Linked DNA regions of Homo sapiens: region 2 is linked to region 1. The links come from fine-mapping of genetic effects on gene expression. Tissue or cell type: monocytes. Region 1 holds a variant in brackets; the other region holds the start of a gene. All regions are shown on one strand. Distances are from middle to middle. Region 1 has its middle 48 kb from the start of MIR4276. Region 2 holds the start of HPGD (15-hydroxyprostaglandin dehydrogenase).

Evidence for each region. PIP is the estimated chance that this variant, and not a neighbour inherited with it, causes the effect.
Region 2: it holds the start of HPGD, and the variant in region 1 is fine-mapped to the expression of HPGD in monocytes (Schmiedel 2018, PIP 0.95).

Annotation. Positions count from the first base shown.
Region 1 is chr4:174,468,706-174,474,092 of GRCh38, forward strand. No RefSeq gene overlaps it. Among named protein-coding and RNA genes, the nearest start is that of MIR4276, 48 kb to the left of the region's middle. The variant CT/C (reference allele first, on the strand shown) is at 2,863.
Region 2 is chr4:174,519,887-174,525,273 of GRCh38, forward strand. HPGD (15-hydroxyprostaglandin dehydrogenase) reads right to left here and starts at 2,602. Exons shown (of 7, transcript NM_000860.6): 1 at 2,473-2,602; 2 at 2,058-2,181. The coding sequence starts at 2,565. It overlaps LOC105377548 (a long non-coding RNA gene), which reads left to right and starts at 2,727. Exons shown (of 7, transcript XR_007058492.1): 1 at 2,727-3,243; 2 at 3,499-3,535.

The DNA.
Region 1 (5,387 bases):
TCTTCAGATAGTAAATGGAATGGAGAAACCAAATGTTAGAAAAAATTAGAAAGAAATCAAAATAGGGAGAGAATACCATAATGATCCTTTATGATTAAGGAAATATTACTATGAGTTGTATTTACTTTGTGTAAACTGAACTGTGATGACATTATATAGCACTGTAGAATAGAAACAAAGTTTAAGGAGCTCTCAAGGTCATTCGGTCCAACTTCTCACTTTTACAGATATGTTGTATATAGAATCTCTAATATGTGACTAGCTGGCATCGGCCTCAGTCATCTCAATCACAGCAATTTTTTCTGTCAATGAAAACTACAAAGGCATTTCATTTGGAGTATCTTAATTCTGAAGGTACCTTCAACTACATCCCTTTCACCTTTACTCATTCATAGTTCTGTTTACAGGAGGCAACTATCTATTCTATTTCCTTATGACAATTTCAAATATTTGTAGTTTTGTGTGTTTTTCTCCTGTTGTCGTTACGATAAAATCCAAACTCCAGACTGGCAAAAGCCTCTAAAATGTGATACTTAGACTCAAATACAGTATCCCAGAAATCATCTAATCAATAAAAGAATGAACATATAAACTTCCATGTTTGGGAAATTTATATTTCTTTTAAGACAGCCTAGTGTGCCTTACCCACTTCATTAGACACTTCATTCATCCATTCAGTAAATATTTACTTGATGCACACCGTATTCCACGCACTGTTTTATATGCTGTGATTAGGTAAAGAACAGAAACAAGTAAGGTCTTTGTTTTTATAGAGCTTATGTTATGGTAGAGTAGAAAAAAACATAATGAAGAAAAAAACGACTAACATAAATTCAGAGGATCAGTGCTATGAAGCTGAAAACAAAATAAGGGTGGTGTGATAACCTAGAATGGGATAACTAACTGATTAATTTAGAGTGGAGGACGTGGGATGCCATTTGAAGGACATAATATTAGAGTCAGGCTATTCTTGGAAATATATGGAAAAGAGCCATCTAGACAGAGTGAAGAGTGAGTGCAAAGTTCCTAAAGGGCAGATGCTTGGTACATTCAAGGTGCAGAGAAGCTAGTGAAGCTAGAGTGAAGTCAGGAAGGAGGGGGGTGAAAATAGGTGAAATCAGAGATGGAGTATTTGATCTTATTTGCAACCAGAAACCACTGGAGGGTAGTAAAGAAGAGTGTGGGACGATCTGACCTTCAATGTGATCCTTGATGCAACTGCTGTTGACTCTTGATCAATGAGGGACTGGGGCACTGACTCCCTGAGGCAAGGTTGAAAATCCACATAACACTTTTGACTCCCGGCTAATTTAACTACCAATAGCCTACTGTTGACCAAAAGCCTTCTTGATAACAAATAGTCAACACATACTTTGTATATTGTATGTATTATACACTGTATTCTTGCAATAAAGTAAGTTAGAGAAAAGAAAATGTTAAGAAAATCCTAAGGAAGAGAAATATATTTACTATTCATTAAGTGGAAGTGGATCATCACAAGGTCTTCAGCCTCTTCATCTTCATGTTGAGTAGGCTGAGGAGGAGGAGGAAGAGGAGGGACTGGTCTTGCTGTCTCAGGGGTGGCAGAGGTGGAAGAGATGGAGGAGGTGGAAGGGGAGCAGGAGATGCAGGCACACCCAGTGTAACTTTTATTGAAAAAAATCCCTGTGTGAGTGTGCCCATGCAGTTCAAACCGTTTTCGTTCAAGGGTCAACCGTATTTGTTTTCTATTGGGTCTACTCATTATATACTCTTTGCTTTATTTCCTCCCTTGGACTCATCAATTAAATATTATTATTTAACTCTCTTCTAAATTACCTTATTAGTTTTACATTATTTACCTTCTGTATTACATTAGGCTTTCTTGACCTACTAATATCTAATTTTAATTTTAATTAGTGTTTTTTTTTTTTGACAGTCTCACTTTGTTGCCTAGGCTAAAGTGCAGTGGTGCAATCTCCGCTCACTGCAACGTCTGCCTCCCAGGTTCAAGCAATTCTACTGCCTCAGCCACCTCAGTAGCTGGGATTACAGGTGCATGCCACTGTGTCCAGCTAATTTATGTATTTTTAGTAGAGACGAGGTTTCACCATGTCGATCAGGCTGGTCTCAAACTTCTGACCTCAGGTGATCCACCTACCTTGGCCTCCCAGAGTGCTGGAATTACAGGGGTGAGCCACTGTGGTTTTTTTTAACCAGATCTTTGAAAACACAAACACCTTAGAACACTTTAACTCTGTTTGATCTCACCTGCCTTTCATGCTTTTTTGTATTTTAATTCTACATATGTTTTAAATACTAGAAGTCATTATTTTCCTGACTTAATATAGTAAATATTCATTTTGATTTCCTCACTCCTTTTCCATTACCCTTCAAATTACCCTGAATTTCTCTTCCTTCATCTGGAAGATTCTTTTCCCCTCCTGAAAAATTCTTTACTTGTATTCCTTTGAATCTGAATCTATTTATGATGAATTTTCTGATTTTCTTTTTTCCTGGAAATGCCATTAACACACCCTCTTTGATTTTATAAGATTTTTCTTAACTCAATATAGAACTTACATTCAGTTTTTATTTGTTTGGAACCTTAAGATAGTTTTCATTGTGTTCTGATTTATGTAGTTTCTGCTAAGAAATTAGCGATCAATTTTATTTTTGCTTCTTGTATAGACAGTTTGCCTCCCCCTGCTCCCCTTGGCAGGTTTTAAGATTTCTTCTGGTCACTGGCTTTTACTTCTATTTGGTGTGCTCTTTTTCTTCTTCTTGCCATTTGTATTGCTTCTTGAATCAGCAGCTTAAAATCTGATTACTTTTGAACATTTGTTGAATATTAGTTACAAATAATGCTTCTGCTTTAATTTC[CT/C]TTTTTTTTTTTTTTTTTTGGTAGGTCTCTAATTACACCTATGTTAGACTGTTTTGGGTTTTTTTTGTTGTTTTTTTCAGTTTTTTGTTTTTTTGAGATGGAGTCTCACTTTGTTTCCCAGGCTGGAGTGCAGCTGCACGATCGTGGCTCACTACAACCTCCGCCTCCCAGGTTCAAGCACTTCTCCTTCCTCAGCCTTTTTTTGTGGAGACAGGGTTTCACCTTGTTGGCCGGGCTAGTCTCAAACTTCTGACCTCAGATGATCCACCTGCCTTGGCCTCCTAAAATGCTGGGATTACAGGCGTGAGCCACCACGCCCGGCTTGTTAGACTGTTTTTAAAGTCCATATCTCTCTTATTCTCTTTTCTGTATTTTTCCATTCCCCTTTCTCTTTTTGTTTCAATCTAAATATTTTCTACTGGCCTATTTTCTATTCGGAAATCAGAGTCGCAAATCCTCTCTCAAGCTGTGTTGAATCTCTTATTCTATTGTTTTCTTAATTTCAATTTTTTTTTTCATTTCTAAAACTGTTCTTCATTGTTTCTAGTTTTTTGGAAAAATTCCCAATCTTTTCTTCTAATTTTTGAACATATCAATCACAATGATTTTAAAATCTGTTTTTGATAATTCCTGTATCAATCCCGTAGGGGCTGTCTTTTTTTTTTTTTCATTTAATTATTATTTTTTTCCTGTCTCTTTATGTGTCTGCTAATTCTTAATTAAATGCTAGAAATTGTATGAAGAATTGTATATGCTCTGGCTTATAATTTTTCTTCAGAGAGGGGTTCATTAGCTGATGGTGGATAGGTAAAGTAGTAGCCTGTCAGCTAAATCTGATTAAGATGAAGCTCATTTGAGCCTAGGTTTTCATTTTTGTAAGGCCTGCTCTCTATTTCTGGTTTGCCTTTTTGTGTGTGTGTGAAATACAGCCTTTTTGGAGCCTGAAATGAAACGCTGGGCCATTTCTTTGTATTCTACCTACTTGCTGATTCTTGCTAATAATTTATTAGAAGTTTTAAAAACTTTTATACATTGATAGTTTTGTTCCCAATGTTTACACTGCATTTTCCTTTCACTGCCTGATTGTACTGGATTTCACCAGTAAGTATGATGATTGCAATATGTTTTTTGGTGGATGTTCTATATGAGACTAAGAAATCTCCCTTCTATTATTAGTTTTTAATACTTTTGTTGTTGTTTTTGAAAATGTATGTTGAATCTTATCAACATCCAAAAGCTTTTTCTACATATATTGATATGATCATACAATTTTTCTTCTGTAGTCTGTTAATATGATAATTTTCACTGATTAAATTTGAGTGTGAGACCAAATTCAATTACTATAACTCCACTTGTTTATGACTTTTTCTTATTTTTGATATAAAAGAACTTCTTTTTCCAATTTATTTAGGAATTTTATATTTATGTTCATTATGGCAAAAGTGAGATTGGCCTATACCTTTTTTTTTCCTTTGTAATAATGCCTTTTCAGTTTTTGAAATCACAGTTATAAGTTGGCAGTGGTCTCTTTCTCTGTACTCTGGGAGAGCCAGAGTAAATTTGGAATTGTTTCATCTTTAAATATTTGGTAGAATTCACCACTGAAACAACCATCTGGACAAGGAATGTTCTTTATGAGAAGGTTTTTAATTATAAATTAAATAAATTGATGAGTTTGCAATCTCTTTAGTAGTTATCTGACTAATCCAATTTTTCTGTTTCTCCTTGTGTCGGTTTTGGTAAATTGTTTACTTCTAGGTATTTGCTTATTTTATATAAATAATCAAATTGACTCATAAATTTAATAAAATAATTGAACTTTTTTTATTGTCTGTATGACCCATTTTTATTCTTGAAATTATTTATTCATAATTCACCTTTCTTTGCTAATAGTGTGAGATGTTTTACTCTAGTTTCATCTAATTTTGACCCCATCAACAGGGTATTTCTGAGCAAAATAAAAAAAAAGTAACAGCTGTAGTTAATAGTCATTTGATAAATTCTAATCTATTGGTATTGATTTCAGTAAGAAACAAATGGCACTCTCAAACTGGGCAATTTTAAGTTAATTTATTAAAACAATTATTTATAAAGTTATCTGCAGGACTCAGGGAAATAGCAGAAATAGCACAGGACCCTGGGACTAGTAACTGCAGGGAGGTGTTACCACTTCTGGACCCGGAGGAGCAAAGGGGGGAATGATAACTAGAACACAATGTGAGTAGCTGTGCAAATGACTGCCTGATAGATGCTGAGATAACCAAACCAGGAATGAAGTCAAGGAAAAATATCTTGATCTCGCTTTTCTCTAGATCTCAAGTCTCTTGAGAGCCTCCTACTGATTGAACTAAATCAGGTGCTGAAAGGCAAAGGAGTTGCCAGTCTTTAACCTGGAGCTCAAAGCAATGTTAAGAGTGAATCTAGAGGGCAAATCAAGCTATCCAATGTGTTTTGGAAAGCCATTTTGTTATATTTCTTAGCAGTTGAGAAACTCATAGACTCCTAAGAATAGTAAATCATTTTG
Region 2 (5,387 bases), 51 kb after region 1:
TCGATCTCCTGACCTCGTGATCCGCCCGCCTCGGCCTCCCAAACTGCTGGGATTACAAGCGTGAAGCCACTGCACCCGGCCTTTTTTCATGGAATCTTAAAAATGTTTCTTAAAATCTCAAATTGGGTCCAGAAAATGTCCCCCAGTATTTTTTTTTTCTCCTTCCATTCTGAGTATGTTCTAACTCTTCATAACTCCACAGAAACAACCTTCACCTTTTGGAAAATGAGGGTGTTAAATATGTATGTCTAATTGCCGCTTTAATTTTCTTTCCTCATTCTGTTCTCCACCGTATTCCTTATACTCTGCCCTTACCAATGTATAGTATACCATCTTGTTTTCTGACATCCCATTGAATTCCAGGCTCAAGCAACAGACAGTCTACCTCTTGCTGACATTTATATGCTATGGTACTCTTTGTAACTTACCTAAACTCTCTTGGCTGTGATTTGTTCATTTGGAAAATAAGTTATGTTTAGATTATCTCCAAGAAACTTTTCATCTCATATTTTTATAATTTCCACACTGTCTAAACAATTTTAAAAGTTATAGGCAACATTAAATCCTGAAACTGGAAGAATCAATGTCATGTTTCCTTTAGATGCAAGCAAATGCTCATGTCCAGACAACATGTGGATTTCTCATGACCAACATGCCTTCCCGGGTCACTTATGTGTCTGAGTATTTTTCCTCCTCCACAATCATTTATCCTTAAGGAATGAGTTTATAGCCAAGGTATTAATTTTAAATACTGGGAAAAAAACAATTGTAGTTAAATGTCATTTATGAAACTATATAAATTGAGACAGAAATGGCTTTCAGATTGTTTATACTGTTCCTTATGCCATCAGCATGAATGTTGAGATCTGACCTGGCTCTATCCTTGATCCAAAATATCATGTGCAATCAACATAATTGTCCTCTGGTACAATATGTTCCTCTTGCATTGTGTTTACAAATCTGTTCTGCTCATGCTTGTCATCTGTGTTATAGGTCTTTATTAGCATTTTCAGATTTCAGTTATGTAATTTCCTTTACAATTTCTCTTAACTGTTGGTACACCACTTCCTTCTAACACGTCAGTTCATTTTCATTCTCTTACAGAATATTTTAAAATTTTAAAATAAATGTACATTTGATGTCCCTTTAAGAACAGGAGCACTGGAATAAGATTTGCAAAAGTTTTCAGACCCCTTGATTAAAAAGTGCCTTACAATTTACTCAGTCTCTTTGAATAAAACTTTGTGAAATACAAATATTTTACTTTTCTAGTTTTTCTCCAGAATTTTTGTTTCCTGTAAGTTTATTGGGGCACTCTCAAGTTCTCCAATAGATGTACAAAAAAAAAAAAAACAGCTTTATAATCAAAGCTGTTTATTGTGTATGCCAATATTGTCCCTGATACTTCACAAGTAGATTGGTCTATTTTAAGTGAGTAGCCGGAAACAGGAAAGCATTGAGGAAAGGCTGATAGAGATGTTTCTACTACAATTCTAACATTGTATACTTTATTATGATTACTATTATTATTATTTTAAAGTACTGTCTCATTGGGGAAAAAGCCGGAGAAAACATATGGTCAAAAGCATCTAGCACTTCTGTGATGATGCTCCTTGAACTTGTATTCTGATATGTTTAAACGAAAAACACTGCCACATTTGATTGTCATTGGACTCCAGCTTTCTGGGAGAAGTTGTTTGTCAACAGTACCTTACTTAACCTACTTTAATTTTCCAAGTTTTGTCTGCAATTTCAATCATTTAATAATTACTGCAGCAGCACTGTCTTTGAATACATAAAGGAATTTTGATTACATTAATGCTGCCAAATGACTACAATAAAAGGATTTCTCCAGCAGTCTTGCCTTTCTTTCGGTTTTACAGCTATTGGGCTGTCAGAAGGAAACGTATCAGTCCAAACTGTCTTTTGGAGCTTCAAGGTAGCTGCTCTCGAGGAGGCAGCGGAGGCGGCACCCAGGGCCCCCTGGCCGGGCTGCCTTCAGGTTGTTGCTTGTTGAGAGCACGTTCCCAGTTGACAGATTGATTCCCCTGTCTTACCTCTCAGTTGTTGCTGGTCAGCCACATCGCACTGGATGAACAGAGTCTTCTGAGGTTCAAACTGCTCATCCAGGGCAGCTTTACACTGTACACCTGCTTCAAGATTCCAATCCACCAGCGCTACCTATAGACAAGAGGAGAGGAATCGCGGGCCTGCGCAGCTCACGAAATAGACGGACAAACAATAAACACACAAGAGGCTCCCCTCCTGGACCTGAAATTTGGCAATTAGGTTTGGGTTCCCTCCCAGCCACTTCTGAGGTGTGCTCACAGCCTCAGCTTCAGCAAATTTTGGAAGTGGCAAAGTGGGCACGCCGGGCGCGGCCTCCCTGTCTCCGCCAGTGCACCTCGGGCGGCGGGGCGAGTCTCGGAGTGTGTGGGCAGAGAAATTTCCGCGGCTGGGCGCCGGGCTTACCTTGGCGCCCTTAAGCAGCAGCGCCTCTGCAAAGGCTCTGCCTATGCCCTGAGCCGCGCCGGTCACCAGCGCCACTTTGCCGTTCACGTGCATGGTGCAGCCACTGCTGGGGCGGGCGGTGGGCGAGCTCCGCGTCTCCGCGCGGCCGCGGCTTTTATGCCCCCCTGCGCGCGCGCGCGTGCAGCCCGGCGGGGCGCTCCCCTGCCAGTGGGCGGGGAGGAAACTGTCAAGCCAGCGCCCGCCGGGGAACCCACGACTGTGTCACCTGCCCCCTGAGCGTTCTGGAGCGCCAAGCTTCGCGATCTTTGCCTTCCGGACTCGCAGACCGGCTCAAAGCCTCCCCTCAGCCTCTGGCTCCGTGATTGGCAGGCAGCTGACAGAAGAAAAGTTAAAAGGTTATTTCTGAAGAAGAGTTTCCTTCAGTGCCCTAAAGACCAACTGGATAGAAGGAGAGCGGAGCAGAGGCTTGGAAGCTTGGATCCCTCCTCCTGCACTCCCTCCCGGCCCCGACTCCGGAACAAAACAAGCAAACAATAAAGCAAACTTGTTGCTCTTTTGTCTCAAAGTTTTGTGTGAGTTCCCATCTCGTAATCAGTGGGGTTGAGGGTGACGGGGAGCAGAAGTAACTAATATCATTGTGTTTTCTTAGTTACATTTTGGACAAATTTTTACGGATACTGGAGATGAGAAGTGGACTCTGCTCTGTCCTGAAAACCTGGAATCATAACATTTCATGGCTAGGACTAGAGTGTCCTTGGCGCTGTGTTTCTGGTCAGTGTCAATTGTGTGTCATATTGAGATGCCCCCACAAAAACTGTCATCATCAACAGGCGCTCCAGAGCCGCTGGTAGCCTACCAAATTGTTGGCTCAATGGAATGCTTACTTGTTGAAATACACCAACTTTGGAAGCTCTGAGTCAAGTTTGGGACAGAGGTTCCTTGCTCTCCAGGAACTCCAGGGCTAGCTGTATGCGGACTTGCATAAATAACAAGGGCTATTCCACTGACTTTGTCTCTTTTTCTCAGGTTGTCAGCGGCAGGCTGCAATTTTAATTCTGTAAACGTAAGTGGTTGGCTTTTTTTTTTTTTTTTTTTTTTTAATCTTGAGACAAGATCTCGCTCTGTCTGTTTGGCTAGAATGCAGTGGCATAATCCCAGCTCGCTGCAACCTCAATCTCCAGGGCTCAAGCGACCCTCCCACCTTGGACTCCCAAAGAGTGCTAAGATTACAGGCATGAGCCACTATGCCCAGCTGGCATTTATTTTCTTAAAGAAAAAAAAAATCTAAATACTTGGGGGAAATGGGAGTTGAGCAAAAGACTGACACTAACAGCAGAATGAATCATTTTTATATCTTCTTTACCTTCTTTACTGGGAAAGGTGGCTGGCTCAGCAGGGAAGGAGTGTATGAGGAGACTGTGTAAAATGTGTCTTGTCGCGTTGTTGGTAAGCCGCTAAGCAAATGTCTTTAACATTAATTTGAAATTAGGTCTTGACAAAATCTTGAGAAATTAAAACAGGAAAATAGATATTTGTACTCTAGGATGATAATTAAAATTGTAATATGAAGAGTAAATTGAGGGGTCATATTGAAAGGGAATAATAGTAGAAGACAAAAAGAAAACAAGGAACCAAACAAAACTTCAGCTCCTCTAATGGCATGCACAGAACATAGAAGTTTCTGATGAAGGAACTGGCAAAAAAGACAGAAAAGGAACTGCTGGGGTAAAATGGCAACATGCTGGGAGAACACAGGTTTGCAGCTCTTGTGGGAGAAATACTTTCAAGAAGAAAGAAGTAGTTAATAATGCAAAATACTCAGGTGAGCACCAGGGAATAAAGGATGGAGAAATATTTTGAATTTTTCAGGACAATATTTAGTGTGAGTAAATTTAGAAGGCACAAAAACTGAACAGCTGAAATGATCTGTGAGAAGATAGATATTGTCATGGACTGAAGACCAAGGTTACATGGAAAGAGAAATGGACTGGATAATAGTTGAAAAGATTAGACAGCAAACATGTTTTTCTTTTAAGAAAAGATAAGAAGATTGATTGAGGTCAAAGTGCAATGAGTCAAGGATAGTGACAACTGGAAGAACAGGAAGCAGTTTGGCGGTGGCGGATAGGTGAGGCACAAGGACGTCAGCACTGGATTCAGACAAACCGGGTTTGGATCTTGTGTCTGCTACTGACCAGCTGTGTAACCTTGGGCAATTTGCTTCAACTCTGGGTCTCAGATTCCTTATTATAAAGTAAGCTTTTCTAAAAAAAAAAAAAAAGGTGAAAATTAAAATAGGTGAAGCATATTAAACACTATTACAGAGCCTGCCACAAAGTATTAATACATTAATATTAGTCCCAACATATTACTTCTGAAATATTAATGAATAATAAATGTGAGATAGAGAAAAATGTGAAGAATAGGTTTTTTTAGTAGATAGCAAGGACTGAGGTCTAGAGAAAACTTAGTACCCCTTCATCCCTTTCCCTCCTCTCAATTTCCACTGCCACTGTCCAGATTCATATTTTCTCCTATGATAGCAAACAGCAGTTAGCTTCTCATTACCTCCAAATACGCCCCCCACTTTTTTTCGCATTGTGAGATGCTTTTATTACAGTGAATTAAACTGCTTACCAAACAGTGATCTTTGTAAGGAAGGATTTTTTCCCTTTTTAGTTGACATGGAATAACTGTGCATATTTATGTGATCTATATATACAGAGTGATATATATGTACGGAGTGATATATCAATACATGTATACAATGTATAGTGACAAAATCAGGATATTTGATTATTAGCATATTTATTAACTCAAATGTTTATCATTGCTTGTGTTGTGTACATTCAAAATCCTCTCTTCTGGCTTTTAGAACCTATACACTAAATTATTGTTAACCATATTCACCTTAC